Regions from separate parts of the Homo sapiens genome. Here region 2 is linked to region 1. A link means that fine-mapping ties the variant in region 1 to the expression of a gene that starts in the linked region. Tissue or cell type: minor salivary gland. Region 1 holds a variant in brackets; the other region holds the start of a gene. All regions are shown on one strand. Distances are between the middles of the regions.

Region 1 (8,096 bases):
ACTACTAGACAGTGGGGGATGGGGGGCAGCAATTAACTATTTATCGGGTACTATGCTCACTACATAAGTGACAGGATCCATACTCCAAACCTCAGCCTCATGCAATATTCCCACATAACGAACCTGCACATATACCTCTGGTATCTCAAATAAAAGTTGAAATTAAAAAAAAATTAAATTAAAGAAGAACTTCTAGTTCCAGGATGGCCATCTGGTTTGAGGATCTTCAGCCCAGAGAAACACAAAGCCCTCTCACAACCGAAGTACAACTGTTGATACAGTAGGAGCTAGATATTCACATAGTATACATCATACGTTTTTGTTTTTTTGGTCTGGTATAGACTCAAATAGCAACTTGCCCAGAAAACATAGTCCTTAAATACTGATTGGATAATTAATTGATCAGTGATATGTTTAATGACATTGACCATGGATACAATAGCATGGCCTTTGAATAGAAGAAAGACCATGGAAAGGAGGAGTTGTGAGTCCTGCCCTCTTTTTCCCCGGACATGCAATGCAGTGGTTGAGACACTGAATACAAGTCTGACTGTTCCACCTCTGTCACATCTTGTACAAGTTCTATAATTTTTCCAAACTGCAGTTTGTCCTTCTGTCAGCTGGAGATAATTATTGTACCAATCTCATAAGACTGTTCAATATGAAATAAAATAAAACACATAAAATGCTTAGCCTTGTATCAGGCACATAGTAAGTATTTGACATAAATATGTTTTTATTGCTGGTGTTGTTTTTGGTTTTATTTTATGAGTTAAGATCCTGGAGAAGTGCAGGAGGTCAAAGGGAAAAGATGATAATAGCTTCCAGGGACCCATGTTGAGTGGCAAGGCCCAGAGTGACCCCGTGCTGTGGCACGGATCTGTGATTCTCCAGATGTTCACGAAGGAATGGTTTTCTGCAGAATGAAGGAGCTGAAGTGCAAATGGGGTCAGGGAATTTTATAGGAGCTTGGAGGAAGAGTCAAGAGTAGAGTGTTCAGTCGTTACATCAAGTGAAAATAGAGACGCTGACGAAGAACTCGTGCCCTTACCTGGAGAGCTTGCCCTTAGGAAAGAGAGAGAAAGAGACAGAGAGAGAGAGAGACGCAGACACACACAGAAAGAGACACAGACACAGAGAGAAAGCACAGTCCCTCTTGTGCTGGCTGCTGACCAAACCCCACTGTGCCTCAGCCCAGCTTCCTGCCTCCCTGGGGAGGGGAAACGTGTCCCTTGGCCAGTAGCCATCAAAGGTCTTACAGGGATGCTTTGTGTCTGACCTGCCAGGGAAGGCAAACGAGCCCCACTTTTTGTTCCCCAGGGAACTGGCCTCTTAGGGACACTGGCGAGAGTTGTCTGCACATGTGGTCAATGGAGGGAAGCAGCTAGCACACAAGGGGACCAAAAGGGATGGCGGCGAAACTGCACAGTGGTAGGGGGAAGCCCGCGGGCTATTTTAGGCCAGGCTCAGAACTGGAGTCAATGGAGGTTTTGTTTATGTAACATCTGCAGAGGGCCCTTCAAAGCAAATAACCCTGGGTCTCCAGGCCAGGGCTGCAGCGAGCAGGGGTGGGGCCGCGAGCTTCCTGTTGTTCTTGGCACGGCTGCCCAGCTGTCTGCGTGGCTCCTCTCAGAGCCATTTGCCGCCTCACTGCTTGCTCCCTACGATCATCTTCACAGCTCTTTTCCTAGGGGCGGGTAAACAAAGTACAAGAAGCAGTGCAGGCAGAGCCGTTCCTCGGAGAGGTGACTCGAGCACTGTGCCCCAGAAAGTTGCCCTCCTGACCCCAGGGCTCCCCGGCCGCCCTGCAGCCTCAGGAGACCCCAGGGCGTCCTTTCTGCACATCCCCTTAGCTGAGCGGCTTTGCTGTCAGTTTCAGTATGGTAGGGAAAGGGGCCTGGCTCTCAGGTCTGCCCCATACAGGTCTGAACCCAGAGCTGCATTTGGCAGTTGCTTACTCTTGTGCTAAGTGCTCAATCCCCATTATTTATTACAGGCAGAAACATACATATATACGAGATAAATAATGTATGTTAATTTCCTTTCTACCAGGCCTGTTTGAAGGCATGAACACTATATTGTTATCTTTTTGAAACACAGATTCCATTGGGAAAGATGGGGATAAGACGGCCTTTTTCAAGTTTAGGAAAATTTATATGCACAAGAATGTAGAAATCTGAAACTGACAGTTTGATAAACTTGTTCACCTATGTATCCACCCACGTAACTACTACCCTGATCAAGATACAGAATATATCCATCGCCCTTATGTGAAAAGCTCCTTTGTGTCTCTTTCTGGTTAATAACCTGCTTACCCCTACTTATATTAGTCTGCCAGGGTGCCAGAACAAAATACCAAAGGCTAAGCGATTTCAATAACAAAAATCGGTTTCTCACAGTTTTGGAAGCTGGATGTCCAAGATCAGGGGACTAGAATGGCTGGTAAGGGCCCTCTTCCTGGCTTGCAGATGGCTGCTTTCTCAGTGTATGCTCACATGGCCACTACTTTGTGCACCTGGAGCAAGCGCTCTGGTGTCTATTCTTAAAAGGACATAAATTCTATCAGATCAGGGCCCTAACCTTATGACCTCATTTAACCTTAATTACTTCCAGAAAGGACTCATCTCCAAATATATTCACATTGGGGCTCAAGGCCTCAGCATACGAATATGGAGGGGACATGATTCGGTCCATAGCACTACCACGGTGCCTTCCTCCCCCAGTGATATGGTTTGGCTGTGTCCCCATCCAAATCTCAACTTGAATTGTATCTCCCAGAATTCCCATGTGTCACGGGAGGGACCCAGGGGGAGGTAATTGAATCATGGGGGCTGGTCTTTCCCATGCTAGTCTCGTAATAGTGAGTAAGTCACATGAGATCTGATGGGTTTTTCAGGGGTTTCCGCCTTTGCTTCTTCCTCATTTTTCTCTTGCCACTGCCATGTGAGAAGTGCCTTTTGCCTCCCGCCATGTTTCTGAGGCCTCCCCAGCCATGTGGAACTGTAAGTCCAATTAAACCTCTTTTCCTTCCCAGTGTCAGGTATGTCTTTATCAGCAGCGTGAAAACAGACTAATACAGTCAGTTGGTATCAGTACAGTGGGGCGTTGCTGAAAAGATAGCTGAAAATGTGGAAG[C/T]GACTTTGGAACTGGGTAACAGGCAGAGTTTGGAACAGTTTGGAGGCCTCAGAAGAAGACAGGAAAACGTGGGAAAGTTTGGAACTTCCTAGAGACCTGTTGAATGGCTTTGACAAAAATGCTAATAGTGATATGAACAATAAGGTCCAGGCTGAGGTGGTCTCAGATGGAGATGGGGAACTTGTTGGGAACTGGAGCAAAGGCGACTTTTGCTATGTTTTAGCAAAAAGACTGGCGGCATTTTGCCCCTGCCCTAGAGATGTGTGGAACTTTGAGCTTGGGAGAGATGATTTAGGGTGTCTGGTAGAAGAAACTTCTAAGCAGCAAAGCATTCAAGAGGTGACTTGGGTGCTGTTAAAAGCATTCCATTTTAAAAGGAAAACAGAGCGTAAAAGTTCAGAACGTTTGCAGCCTGATGATGCAGTAGAATAGAAAAACCCATTTTTTGAGGAGAAATTCAAGCCAGCTGCAGAAATTTGCATAAGTAGCAAGGAGTCTAATATTAATCCCCAAGACTGTGGGGAAAATGTCTCCAGGCCAAGTCAGAGACCTTCACAGCAGCCCCTCTCATCGCAGGCCTGGAGTCCCAGGAGGAAAAAGTGGTCTCATGGGCCAGTCCCAGGGTCCCTGTGCTGTGTGCAGCCTAGAAACTTGGTGCCCTGTGTCCCAGCTGCTCCAGATGTGGCTGAAAGGGGCCAACATAGAGCTTGGGCTGTGGCTTCAGAGTGTGCAAACCCCAAGCCTTGGCAGCTTCCACATGGTGTTGAGCCTGCAGTCCACAGAAGTCAAGAATTGAGGTTCGGGAATCTCCACTTAGATTTCAGAAGATGTATAGAAATGCCTGGATGCCCAGACAAAAGTTTGCTGCAGGAGCAGGGCCTCATGAAGAACCTCTCCTAGGGAAGTGCAGAAGGGAAATGTGGGGTCGGAGCCCCCACACAGAGTCCCTACTGGGGCACCGCCTAGTGGAGCTGTGAGAAGACGGCCACCGTCATCCAGACCCCAGAATGGTAGATCCACAGGCAGCTTGCACTGTGCACCTGGAAAAGCCACGGACACACAATGCCTGCCCGTGAAAGCAGTGGGAGAGAGGCTGTATCCTGCAAAGCCACAGGGGTGGAGCTGCCCAAGACCATGGGAACCCACCTTTTGAATTAGCATGACCTGGATGTGAGACCTGGAGTCAAAGGAGATCATTTTGGAGCTTTAAAATTTGACGACCTCACTGGATTTCGGACTTGCATGGGCCCTGTAACCCCTTTGTTTTGGCCAATTTCTCCCATTTGGAATGAATGTATTTACCCAATACCTGTTTTTCCATTGTATCTAGGAAGTAACTAGCTTGCTTTTGATTTTGCCAGCTCATATGTGGAGGAACTTCCCTTGTCTCAGAGGAGACTTTGGACTATGGACTTTTGGGTTAAAGCTGAAATGAGTTAAGACTTTGGGGGACTGTTGGGAAGGCATAATTGGTTTTGAAATGTGAGAACATGAGATTTGGAGGGGCCAGGGGTGGAATGATATAGTCTGGCTGTGTCCCCATCCAAATCCCAACTTGAATTCTATCTCCCAGAATTCCCATGTGTTGTGGGAGGGACCCAGGGGGAAGAAATTGAATCATGGGAGCCAGTCTTTCCCGTGCTATTCTCATGATAGTGAATAAGTCTCACAAGATCTGACAGGTTTATCAGGGGTTTCTGCTTTTGCTTCTTCCTCATTTTTCTCCTACTGACACCATGTAAGAAGTGCCTTTTGCCTCCCATCATGATTCTGAGGCCTCCTCAGCCATGTGGAACTGTAAGTCCAATTAAACCTCTTTTTCTTCCCTGTCTTGGGTATGTCTTTACCAGCAGCGTGAAAACAGACTCATGAAAACAGACTAATAGGCCCAGCCCCTAGCTGGTAACTACTGCTTCACTTAATGTCTCAAAACTAGAAGAAACCCAAATGTCCACCAACAGAGAAATGTACAAGTAAACTTTGATCTACTCATACAATGGAACATTTTGCCTCAATGAGAAATAATGAAGCCAGGTGCGGTGGCTCACATCTGTAATCCTAGCACTTTGGGAGGCCAAGACGAGCAGATCACCTGAGGTCAGGAGTTCAAGACCAGCCTGGCCAACATGGTGAAACCCTGTCTCTACTAAAAATACAAAAATTAGCCGGGTGTTGTGGCACACATACCTGTAGTCCCAGCTCTTCAGGAAGCTGAGGTACAAGAATTGCTTGAGCCTGGGAGGCGGAGCTTGCAGTGAGCCAAGATCACACCGCTGCACTGCAGCCTGGGTGACAGAGAGAAACTCTGTCTCAAAAAAAAAAAAAAAAAAAAAAAAGGAATGAGCTCATGGTATATAGGATCCATTTTCGGCTTTCCTCTGAGCAGGTTATGAATAAAACACAACAAAGGCCTTTGGATTTTGAGAATTCTGATCTCTGCCTGGACTGCCCCAAAAGTTTGTTTATTCCAACCAAGTTTAATTATTCCCTCGTGTTTGTAGCAAAAATTTCAAGTTTTTAGGGACCTTGCCTAACCACTGATAATCTTCCCACTCTACCAGGATAGACAATGGAGACCCCAGCTCATATCACAAGTGTCACCAGTAGAGCCTTTTAATATGAAACGTATCTTTCTTCGGGGAGAACTTGACTTCAAATTTGGATTTTCTGTTATTTTTATTAAAGAACAATAGGGTAGCCAGTTGGCTGAGGAAAAAGCAGTTGTTTCAAATTAGGTGTAATTTTGAATTCAGCCAATATTGGCTTAACAGATTTTACCCAAGATGTTTTTCTATATATAGGATGTTTGACTTAGTCTTAGAAAGACTGTGGTGGGTTTCCATGTCCATTGTTATTTGGCCTTATGCTTTGCAAAGTATCAAAGTAAGTTTGTTTTTAACAGTTATGCTGCCAGTTTGAGTTAAACTGTTTAACAAGGGAGAGTTTTTACTAAAAAAAATCGTCTCTTTGGAGGCAGGGAGTCTTAATTCACTCAAATAATAGATTTTAAAGTGAAAGTAGCTAGAACTTGAGATCTGAGATAACAAGCCAACTGCTTGCACCTCCACAAAATGTGACATTTCCCAGGCAGTGAATTGGGCTTTCTATTCCCAAAGGTTTCATTCTGGTTTCTATGAGTCTGATTTTTATCCAAAGCCCCTGCTTGCCTGGTGTTCCAATTTTTTTTTATTTTTATTTTTGTACCAGAGGGATATTAAAATGGCCAGAAGCAGAGAAGCCAGTGAGATGTAGAGGAAGAGTTTACATGTTAACATCAGAGAGACCTGGGTTCAAGTACTATATTCTCCTCACCTGGGTTTGTGACCAGGAACAAGTTACTTTTCTGAGCCTCAGTTTCACCGTTCATAAAATAGGCATGACCATGCTTACCTCCAAACATTTGATAAGAATTCACTGTGAAGTACCTGGCATATATGAATAGTAGCTCATTCATTCAACAAATGTTTATTGAGTACCTACCATGTGCCAGATGCTTTAGCAGTGGGGACACAGTGGTAAACAAATGATATCTGCCCTCTTGGATATCATAGTTGTTCAATAAATAGCTGCCATTCCAATAGGTATATGAAAAGGTACTCAACATCACTAGTCATCAGGAAAATACAATCAAAACTACAATGAGATATCATCTCACAGCTGTTAGGATGTCTATTATCCAAAAAAAAAAACCAAAAAAAAAAAAAAACAAAGATAAGTGTTGGCTAAGCTGTTGAGAAACTGAAATCCTGGCACACTGTGGTAGGAATGTAAAATGGTGCAATTGCTATAGAAAACAGTATGGAGGTTCATGAAAAAATCAAAATAGAAGTACTATATGATCTAACAATCCCATTTGGGGGATTTATCCAAAAGATTTGAAATCAGGACCTCAAAGAGATATCTGCACTCCCATGTTAATTTCAGCATTATTCACAGTAGCCAAGAGGTGGAAACCACCCAAATGTTCATTGCTGGATGAATGGATAAAGAGAATGTGGCATACTGCACATGCAGTAGAATATTATTCAGCTTTAAAAAAATTCTACCATATGCTACAACATGGAAGAGCCTGGAGGACATTATGCTAAGTGAAATAAGCCAGTCACAAAAGGACAAACACTGCATAATTCCACTTACATAAGTATCTAAATGTATCTAAAGTCAAACACATAGAAACAGAGTAGAATGGTGGTTGCTAGGGGATGGGGCAGTATAAATGGAAAGGTATTATTCAAGGGTTATAAAGTTTTAGTTATTCAAGATGATTAAGTTCTGGAGATCTGCTGTACAAAATTGTGACTCTGGTTAACAACACTGTATTGTACACTTAAAAATTTGTTAAGAGATAGATCTCCTGTTACGTGTTCTTTTTTTTAAAAAAAAGAAAGAAATATTATAAATCTAGATCATGGTAATCTAGATCATGTTTGTGTAACTCTGTAACCTTACTAAAATGGATTATACACTTAAAAGGGTGAGTTTTATTATATATAAATTACATCTCAATAAAGCAGTTTTGCAAAAATAGTTGCCATTAATTTAACAGTCCCATTTCTTTCAAGCCTTTGTTCAATATCACCACTCCCCTCCCAGCTTCACTTTTTTCATAGCCACATTTTGATATATTATAGTTTATTTATCTTATGTAATCAATTCTAAGTTTCACATCTTAACATACATAAAATCAAGATGCATTCTATAATGGCAGCAATTTATTAGCAGCATTCTTTCTTTCTTTAGTGGCACATAGACTAGCAGTGCATCTTGTATCACTGCCATCTTAGAGACAATAAACTGTGCTGTTGTGTTATTGTTTCTTGCCTTTTTTCCCCTCTAGAATGTTTGCTTCACACTGGTAGGGATCTTTATTTTGTTCACTGCTGTATTCTAAATGTCTAGAATAGTGCCTAGAATGTCTAGAATAGTGCCTAGAATGTCACATATCATTGATAAACATTTGT
Region 2 (8,108 bases), 990 kb after region 1:
TAAGCCACTTACCTACAAAAGGTCAAGCACCTGACTAGACCCTCTGTAATATGGTGGGAACTAAGGTGGACTTTACAGAATGGAGAGAAGCAGAGGCAGTTAGGTAAGTTTGCATGCGATGCGCAATGTAGTTCTGATGCTACAGGGCCATTACAGGGTGCTAAAGAAAATCAAGAACACATAGAAGGGCTGATGGTGGTCAGAGAAAAGTTAGGTTAAGAGCAGTAAAGTATAAGGCAATAGGGAGCATTCCAATTAAATTAAAACATTCAGAGCCCCGCAGGCCAGAGCACGTTGCCATTTTACCATAGTTTGAAAATAACCAACTTTCCACTACTACAGACATAAAGTCCTCCGCTCCTTAAGGGCACTTCTCTACAGCTTCACTGCTTCTCCAAACCTTTAAACACAACTATCCTCAGGGCCTTTGCACTAGTTTTCCCTCTGCCTAGAATGCTCTTCCCTCAACTATAGATAAGGCCATGGCATCTCCCTCAGCTCTTTCATGTTGAGTGAGGCCTCCCTTGCCGGCCATGTTAAGTCATCTCCCTTTCCTTACCCCCTTAGCAATTATAGCCAGCTAACACATTAGTTGAATGTATTTTTTGTACTAGTCTGTTCTCACATTGCTATAAAGAACTGAGACTGGGTAATTTATAAAGAAAAGGTTTGTCTCATGGTTCAGCAGGCTGCACAGGGAGCATGGCTGCTGAGGCTTCAGGAAACTTACAATCATGGGGTATGTCTAACAGGAAGCACATGGCCAGAGTAGGAGGAAGGGGAGGTGCCACACTTTTAATCTAAACTCTGCCATTCTTCTGCCTCTGCCTTGAGATAACATGTGCACAATTGCATAACCTTTATTTTTATTAATTTTTCTTTTCAGGCTGGAGCACGGTGACAAGATCATGGCTCAGTGCAGTCTCAACCTCTTGGGCTCAAGCAATCCTTCTGCCTCATTTTTTGTAGAGACGAGGTCTTACTATGTTGCCCAAGATAGTCTTAACTCCTGACCTCAAGTGATCCCCCTGCCTTGGCCTTCCCAAGTGCTGGGATTACAGGCATGAGCCACTGCCCCAGCCACACTACACATCTAAACAACCAGATCTCATGAGAACTCACTATCACAAGGAACAGCAAGAGGGAAATCCACCCTTTTCATCCAATCACGTCCCACCAGGCCCCTCCTCTAACATCGGGATTACAATTCAACATTATCCAAACTTGTGAGCAATTACCTAAATTTATGAGGCTAGACTTTACAATATGGAACATAAAAGTTTAGATAAAAAGGTAAGAACAATGCTATGAATTAAGAATGACTCCAAGATAAATATTAATACTTGCTACATAGACACACACAAAAAAACAGAATATGCTGACAGATACTCCTTCTGTGCCAAATTTTGTGAACCTTCTTAGGCTCAATGCAATGAAATAATATGAAGAGTTTATATTCTTAACAGCTCGACTGTGGTCCTTTCCTAGTTTGGTTGAAATAATTCTTAACTGTTACACCAGGACACCAAATCTCAAGAGACAAGTGACTTTCCAGAAGTCACATTGCCTAAAAGTTATACATGTGAAGCCTCTCATTCAGAGATACTCACAGGTGATGAAACTTGAGTTATCACTAATCCATTTCTTTACCTGTGAAATGGGAGAATAGAATCTGTAAGGTTAGCCGAGAGAAAAGACAAGAGACCCAAGGTCAGGCCAAGTAAGTTTATTAACCTGCCAGGCTTCTCCACCAGTCGGAGGTGGCAGCCCTGAGCTTACAAAATGAGGGGTTTATATGGGGGAGAGAGACCCTGGGGTTGTTAGTCAATTAACTTTACCACATATAATCTCATGACCGGCTTACAATATATTATCTTGTGAAAATAGGAATTTACAAGGGGGTGTAATCCACGTTTCTCATGACCTCCCCCGTGCCACCCAGAGGGCTTCGGTGTAGCAAGTCTGGTGACCTTGCTATAGCGCCTAGATAACGGTTCAGGAATGCAGCTGCAGAGTATTCAGGGTAAGGGTCAGCTGCATTGAGTTAGCGGGGGCGGAGTGGTCCTGGGGCAGCCTGTCCCTAACAGAATCCACCTCCGAGTTGTGACAATTAAATGAAAAGGTTGAAAAGGTGAACATGAAGCACCTGCTACACTGCCCTGTTGCCACCAGCATTGTCACTGCTCTAGCTCCTGTGGCACTGCACGGACACGTGGTTGCTACAAGTTAGTACGCATATTTGGCCTTATTAGAGGCACTTTCCTATTGTAACTGAAGGGATAGTTGGCTTAAGTCAATTGAAATACCAGCAACAGGACATTCCAGCTTCAATGGCTTGTGCCTGTAGTTGTCAACCTATAGAAAGAAAAGTTTTAAAATGACGTTTTAACCAAAGAAAACTGAAATGTATTGCTTGTTCTATAAACTGTAAAGAAAATCACAAAGGCGCTCAAGTTGTAACGAAACTTTTTCTGGTTCAGTTGTGACTCCAGACAGGATCCAAAGAGGAGCTTTCCAGTCTCTTCTCTGGGTTTTATGGAGACTTACTTTACCCTTCTGTGTTAGCCTCTTAAAGCACTGGGTCAACCTTAAAAGGGCACAGGAAAGGGTGCTTTGTGATTTTTTTTCTTTGATTTTTACAGGGTTCACTACTATTTTCCGCGTTGCTCTCAATACCTCGTGGATCTCTGCTTCTCTAAGTCTGAAACCACACTAGAAACACAGCTGTTTTGTTTGGTGAGCCCCTACATGGATGTTTCCTTCCAGTTAAGGGGAGCCGGATTCGGACCTTGGCGACAAACAGACGCCGGGGAACCCTCCGGTCCCACTGGCCACGTGCTCCAGGCTGACTCATTCCTTCCCCCACCCCGCTCAAGGCTAGGAACATACCTGCGCTAAGAACTGAGGCAGCTGCACTTCCGCAGACGTAAGAGACGAACTCCTGGAGCTCAAGGTCGGCTGGGGTTGGGTTCCTGTCCCGCACGCGTGGCCCGCCCGAAACCCGCTACATAGTGGCGCGTCAGCCCTGGGGAAGCAAAGCGCAAAATTGTTACGGTGCCCAGACCTGCGCCGGGAACCTCCGGCTGTTCCGCTGGGCGCGGCGCCTGTGCCTCGCGCAGCCCCGGGACGGGCACCGCCGCCCGCCCCCCGGGCCGCCGAGGGCTGCTCTACCCCTCCGTTCTGGCCGCCGGGAGCAGAGGAGCTCGAGGCGGGCAAAGCTCGTGGGGACACCGGGCGAGCCCAGCCCCTGATCGGACCCACGGGCCGGCCGGGCGCCCTCCCCGCGGGAGACCGAAAGCCGAAGACTGGAGATGCACTCACCGCGCAACTCCAGCTGACAAAGAGGCCTGCGACCTGCGACGGGCGCACAAACCAGAGAGGCGGCGCGGGGCGGGGAGGGAAGCAGGAGGGTCGCGAGGCCCGCAGCCAATCCCGGGAAGACTCTGGGCAAGGGCGGGGCGCGCAGCCGATCCCCTGGAGAGGTCGGGTAGCTCAGCCAATCCCGGGAAGATCCTGAGCGGGGCGGGGTGGAGGGCCGCGGCACGCACAGCCAATCCCGGATGGGGCGGGACGGGCCCGGCCATTGGCTGTCGGTGTCCGGGGCCGGCCTAGGTGTGGCTCATGCAGTAGCACGGGGATAAGCCATGTCTGCGCGCGGAGCATCCTTCTCTGAATTAGATTTTTCAGGCTACCTACCAATCCCCGGCGTTGGTGATTTTGGTGCTCTTGGGCCCTAGACCCTTCCTCGGGTGCCCTTCTGGAGAGGGCATCGAGGTTACTCCAGGGTTGGCCTAAGGCCCTGGGATTCCCTTTCTTAAAGCCACACTAATCCGGTGTGTGTTCATCATCTGTGTCCGCCTAAACCGTAAGCTTAAAGAGAAGCCACGACCATGTCTTGTTCAACAAGCTCACTCCCGTGGCCTCTCCTAAAGCTAGAAGGACTACCTCCTTTCCTCATGCTCCCTCTTTATTCATTTACAGAGTCCAATAAGTAGACCATAATCAGCTGGAGGGTAGGAGTTGGGGAGGTTGAGAAGGCAACCATAGCAATCTCAAGGTAACAGGCTCAAACTTGGCAAACAAATAAGTAGAAGAAAATTGGAGTATATGCTAAAAGGAGAACTTCTATTGCTGTTTCACGTACTTACCATCTGCTAACAAATCTAATCCTCAAAATATATTTAATCATCTCCAAATTATAGATGGGGAAATAATTATGTTATGTAACTTGCCCAAAGTCACAGAGCAGCTAGCCAGTGGTAGATCCAGGATTTGAACTCAAGCAGCCTGAAGGCAGAGCCCCTCAAACAACATGCTACCTAGCCTTTCCCCAGGTGTTGGGGGTGGAGCAGGAAGGGAAACCAAAAAATAGCCTACACTTGGTTAACAGATCAAGACAGGCAGCTCTGGTGGGGTGTGGCTTTGTAAACAGAAAGAACAACTCGTCCAGAGCCCCAAGATAAAACAGGAAAGGGCTTTACCTGTTTAAGGACTCCCAGAAATGGAACTTAAGGAGCAGAGTGGCCTGAGATGAGAATGGCTTGGGGCCAGACCATGCAGGAAACCCTGGAAGAGTTTTTTTGTTTTGTTTTGTTTTTGAGATGGAGTCTCGCTCTGTTGCCCAGACTGGAGTATAGTGGCACGATCTTGGCTCACTGCAGCCTCCACCTCCCAAGTTCAAACTATTCTCGTCTCGGCCTCCCGGGTAGTTGGGATTACAGGCATGCACCACCATGCCTGGTTAATTTTTGTATTTGTGAAAGAGTTTATACTTTGTGCTAAGAATGATGGAAAGCTGTTCAAGTGTTTTGTTTGTTTGTTGTGTGTGTGTGTGTGTGTTTTAACAGGGGAATGATAGGATCTGATGTAGGGTGTGGTTTCGGGTGTGATTAAGGTGGTTTTGGTGGGAAGAAGAAGTTGAGTAAAATTTACCAATAAACCCTAGCACCTAGTCATCATCTTGCAGATATTCATAGGATCTTGTTGAAATTGGAGAGTGAATACCAGTTTGTTGTCCCTTCACCTTTCTCAAGAGTCTTCCAAACATATCTCTAGTTGGAATCTGTTCTTTTTATAGTCCCTTTGGATAGCTGAGAGATATTACCTTTCCTTTAACTATGGCAATGCATGTGGTCAGGCAACATGGGAAAATATAGGAAAAGAGAAGTAAATCTCCTTAGTAAAGAGACTAATGCAGGAATTCAGCAGCAACCTAGCAGGGGCTGGGGGTAGTTGTGCAGAATGTCTTCCCTCCTCCCCAAATCAGGGGATAAAAATGGGAAGGAATTATGAAAGAATTATATTTGTGTTTGATTTAAGAGAAATTCACCTTAATCTGAAGGCTTCACATTTCTGGCCAAATACCTCAATTCAATGAACTTACAAACAGTTCATTCGAAATAGTAAAACTGTTCACTGGGCTTAGAGGAGAAATGTCTATTAAATACAGAGACAATAGAACAAAATAAACTGATTTATAATTGCTTTTGAGTTAGGTTCAAGATAATATATATTTGGTACTAAAAATCCTTATAATGCAGTTTAAAGAGAATTGTTTCAATTGGGTTTATTATTAGGCCTAATTTTTTTAGAGAAATTAGTATGTCTAATCAATCCTTCTTTCTTTCTTTTCTTTCTTTCTTTTCTTTCCCTCCCTCCCTCCCTTCCTTCCTTTTCTTTTCTCTCTCTCTCTCTTTCTTGCTCTCTCTCTCGTCTCTCTCCCTCTCCCTTTCTTTTCCCTTTGACAGGGTCTTACTCTATCACTCAGGCTAGAGTGCAGTGGCACAATCATAGCTCACGGGTCAGGCTCCAACTCCTAGGCTTAAGTGATCCTCCCACCTCAGCCTCCCAAAGCATTGGCATTACAGATGTGAGCCACCACGACTGGCCAATCTGTCCAATTTGAGGGAGTTCAGTCTCTCCAAATTTAATCTGTCGGAAGTTGAATAAAGGGACCTAGAAGAATACCCACCAGCCCTCCAGATATTCTCAGCTGGATTTCCCAGAGACACCACAAAATCACTCTTTTGGCCCAGAATTTATTCTCTTCTTCCACCCCTCCACTTCCTTTTTGTGTCCTCTGTCTTGAAGAATAACAATTCCTTAGCCCAGCTGTCCAGGACTTAGCGCAAATGCTTTCCTTTCTCAGTCTCCTCCTCCATTTCTCAGCCTCCTACTTCCTCATCTTCTTCCATGCGGGCAGTTCTTCCTATTGACCACCATGACTCTGCCTCTTCTTTCCAGCCCTTGCTTGTACTTTAGTTCTAGCTCCATCATTTACTTTCAGCATCATCCACTGCAGTAGCCTCCACCTTCATTCAGCTTCCCTGTCTCCAGTGTTCCCTTCCCCATGAATTCTTCCACACTGCTGTCATCTCCATTGGAAATTGTTAAATGGCTCTTTACTGCCACCAGAAACAAAACCAACCTCCACCTATCTACTTCCTCCTCTCACTTCCCACATACCTATTATAATCCAACCATGCTGAACTAATGGCAGTCCCCTGAATGCTGTCCAGCACTCTCCCATACAACTTTCTGCAGTGATGGAAATGTTCTATATCTCTGCTGTCCAGTATGGTAGCCACATGTGGCTATTGAGTACTTGAAATGTGACTAGCACAACACAAGACCTGGATCTTAAACTTCATTTACTTTTAACTAATTTAAATTTAAATAGTCATGCTGGGCCTGGTGGTGGTATGCCTATAATCCCAGCTACGTGGGCAGAAGTCTGAGGTGGGAGGATCCCTTGAGGCCAGAAGTTTGAGGTTGCAGTGTGCTCAGACAGTGCCTGTGAATAGCCACTGCACTCCAGCTGCCGCAATATAGCAAGACTCCATCTCTACAGAAAAAAAAAATTAGCCAAGCATGGCAGAACAGGCCTGTAGTCCCAGCTACTCAGGCAGCTGAGGCAAGAGGATCACTTGAGCTCAGGATTCAAGGCTGCAGTGACCTATGATGGCACTACAGCACTCCAGACTGGGTGACAGAGCAAGACATCTAAGATAAATAAATAGATAAAAATAAAAGTCACATGTGGCTGGTAGATACTACATTGAACTGCACAATAGTTTACATCCTTGCTTCTCAAAGCGTGGTCCATCAGCCTGGGCATTCCCTGGAAACTTGTAGTAATGCATAATCTCAGGCCTCATCCCAGATCTGCTGATTCGGAATCTATATTTCAACAAGATCCCCAGGTGATCTGTATGCACATTAAAGTTTCAAGAGCCACAGCTCTAATAAGCTCTTGCTTCCTTGCCTTTGCATGTGGTGTTCTCTTCGTCTGGGCTGCCTGTCACCTGTTCTTTTTTCCTTAACTCCTACTTATCCCTAGACCTATCTACACTCACAACCTGCTGTTAATATGGTAATCCAGAGGGTAGGGGATGAAGGATATGGGGGAGAGGAGTGAGAGGGAAGGAGAAAATATCTATGATAAAACCACTTGTATCTTGTAATCTTAAATAACTATATGTATGTAGCTATATAATATAAATACATACATACTATGTATATATTTATAGTATAGTATGTATATATGTATAGTATTCTATGTATATACATGTACAAGTATAGTTTGTGTGTGTGTGTGTGTGTGTGTGTGTGAAAATATGGTTACTACAATGTCAGTGGTATTTCTCTCAAGGTGATGGGATTTCATGTGTCTTACTTTCTAAAAATATTTTTGAGGTATCATTCAAATTCTTTACAAAGAGCATGTATTACTGATATAATAATTTTCATTACAGAAAACAAAATAAGGGCTATATTAGCCTTTTGTAAGTAACTTCAAGAACACGATATCGGAATAAAGTATAGCGTTTTACAAAAAAGGAGAGCCCCCACCTTCCACAGTTAGAGACACTCCCTTGTCTACAACACAAGAGCGGGCAGTAGGCATGGCATAGGCAACAACCAACCTGAAAGCAGAAGAATGATCTCTTGTGATGCCTCCACTGCTGTCTCCTGTGTCTACCCTCCCACCCCCACAGCAGACATGGTCCTAGCACCACGACAATCACCTCTTCTCCATCCCCTGCCTGACTCCTAGCTAGGGCTGGAGTCTGAAAAGGGGCCTTAGGTGTACAGAGAAGGTCACCTGG

The links. PIP is the estimated chance that this variant, and not a neighbour inherited with it, causes the effect.
Region 2: it holds the start of DANCR, and the variant in region 1 is fine-mapped to the expression of DANCR in minor salivary gland (GTEx, PIP above 0.99).

What each region holds. Positions count from the first base shown.
Region 1 is chr4:53,696,275-53,704,370 of GRCh38, reverse strand. All of the region lies in intron 1 of LOC100506444 (a long non-coding RNA gene), which reads right to left. Among named protein-coding and RNA genes, the nearest start is that of LNX1-AS2, 110 kb to the right of the region's middle. RefSeq lists an enhancer at 1,701-1,820. The variant C/T (reference allele first, on the strand shown) is at 3,136.
Region 2 is chr4:52,707,741-52,715,848 of GRCh38, reverse strand. DANCR (differentiation antagonizing non-protein coding RNA) reads right to left here and starts at 3,455. Exons shown (of 5, transcript NR_145129.1): 1 at 3,322-3,455; 2 at 2,890-3,025; 3 at 2,307-2,355; 4 at 1,611-1,650. It overlaps MIR4449 (microRNA 4449), which reads right to left and starts at 3,167; the gene lies at 3,102-3,167. SNORA26 (small nucleolar RNA, H/ACA box 26) reads right to left here and starts at 2,600; the gene lies at 2,479-2,600. RefSeq lists an enhancer at 2,772-2,821 and silencers at 3,072-3,641, 2,816-3,649.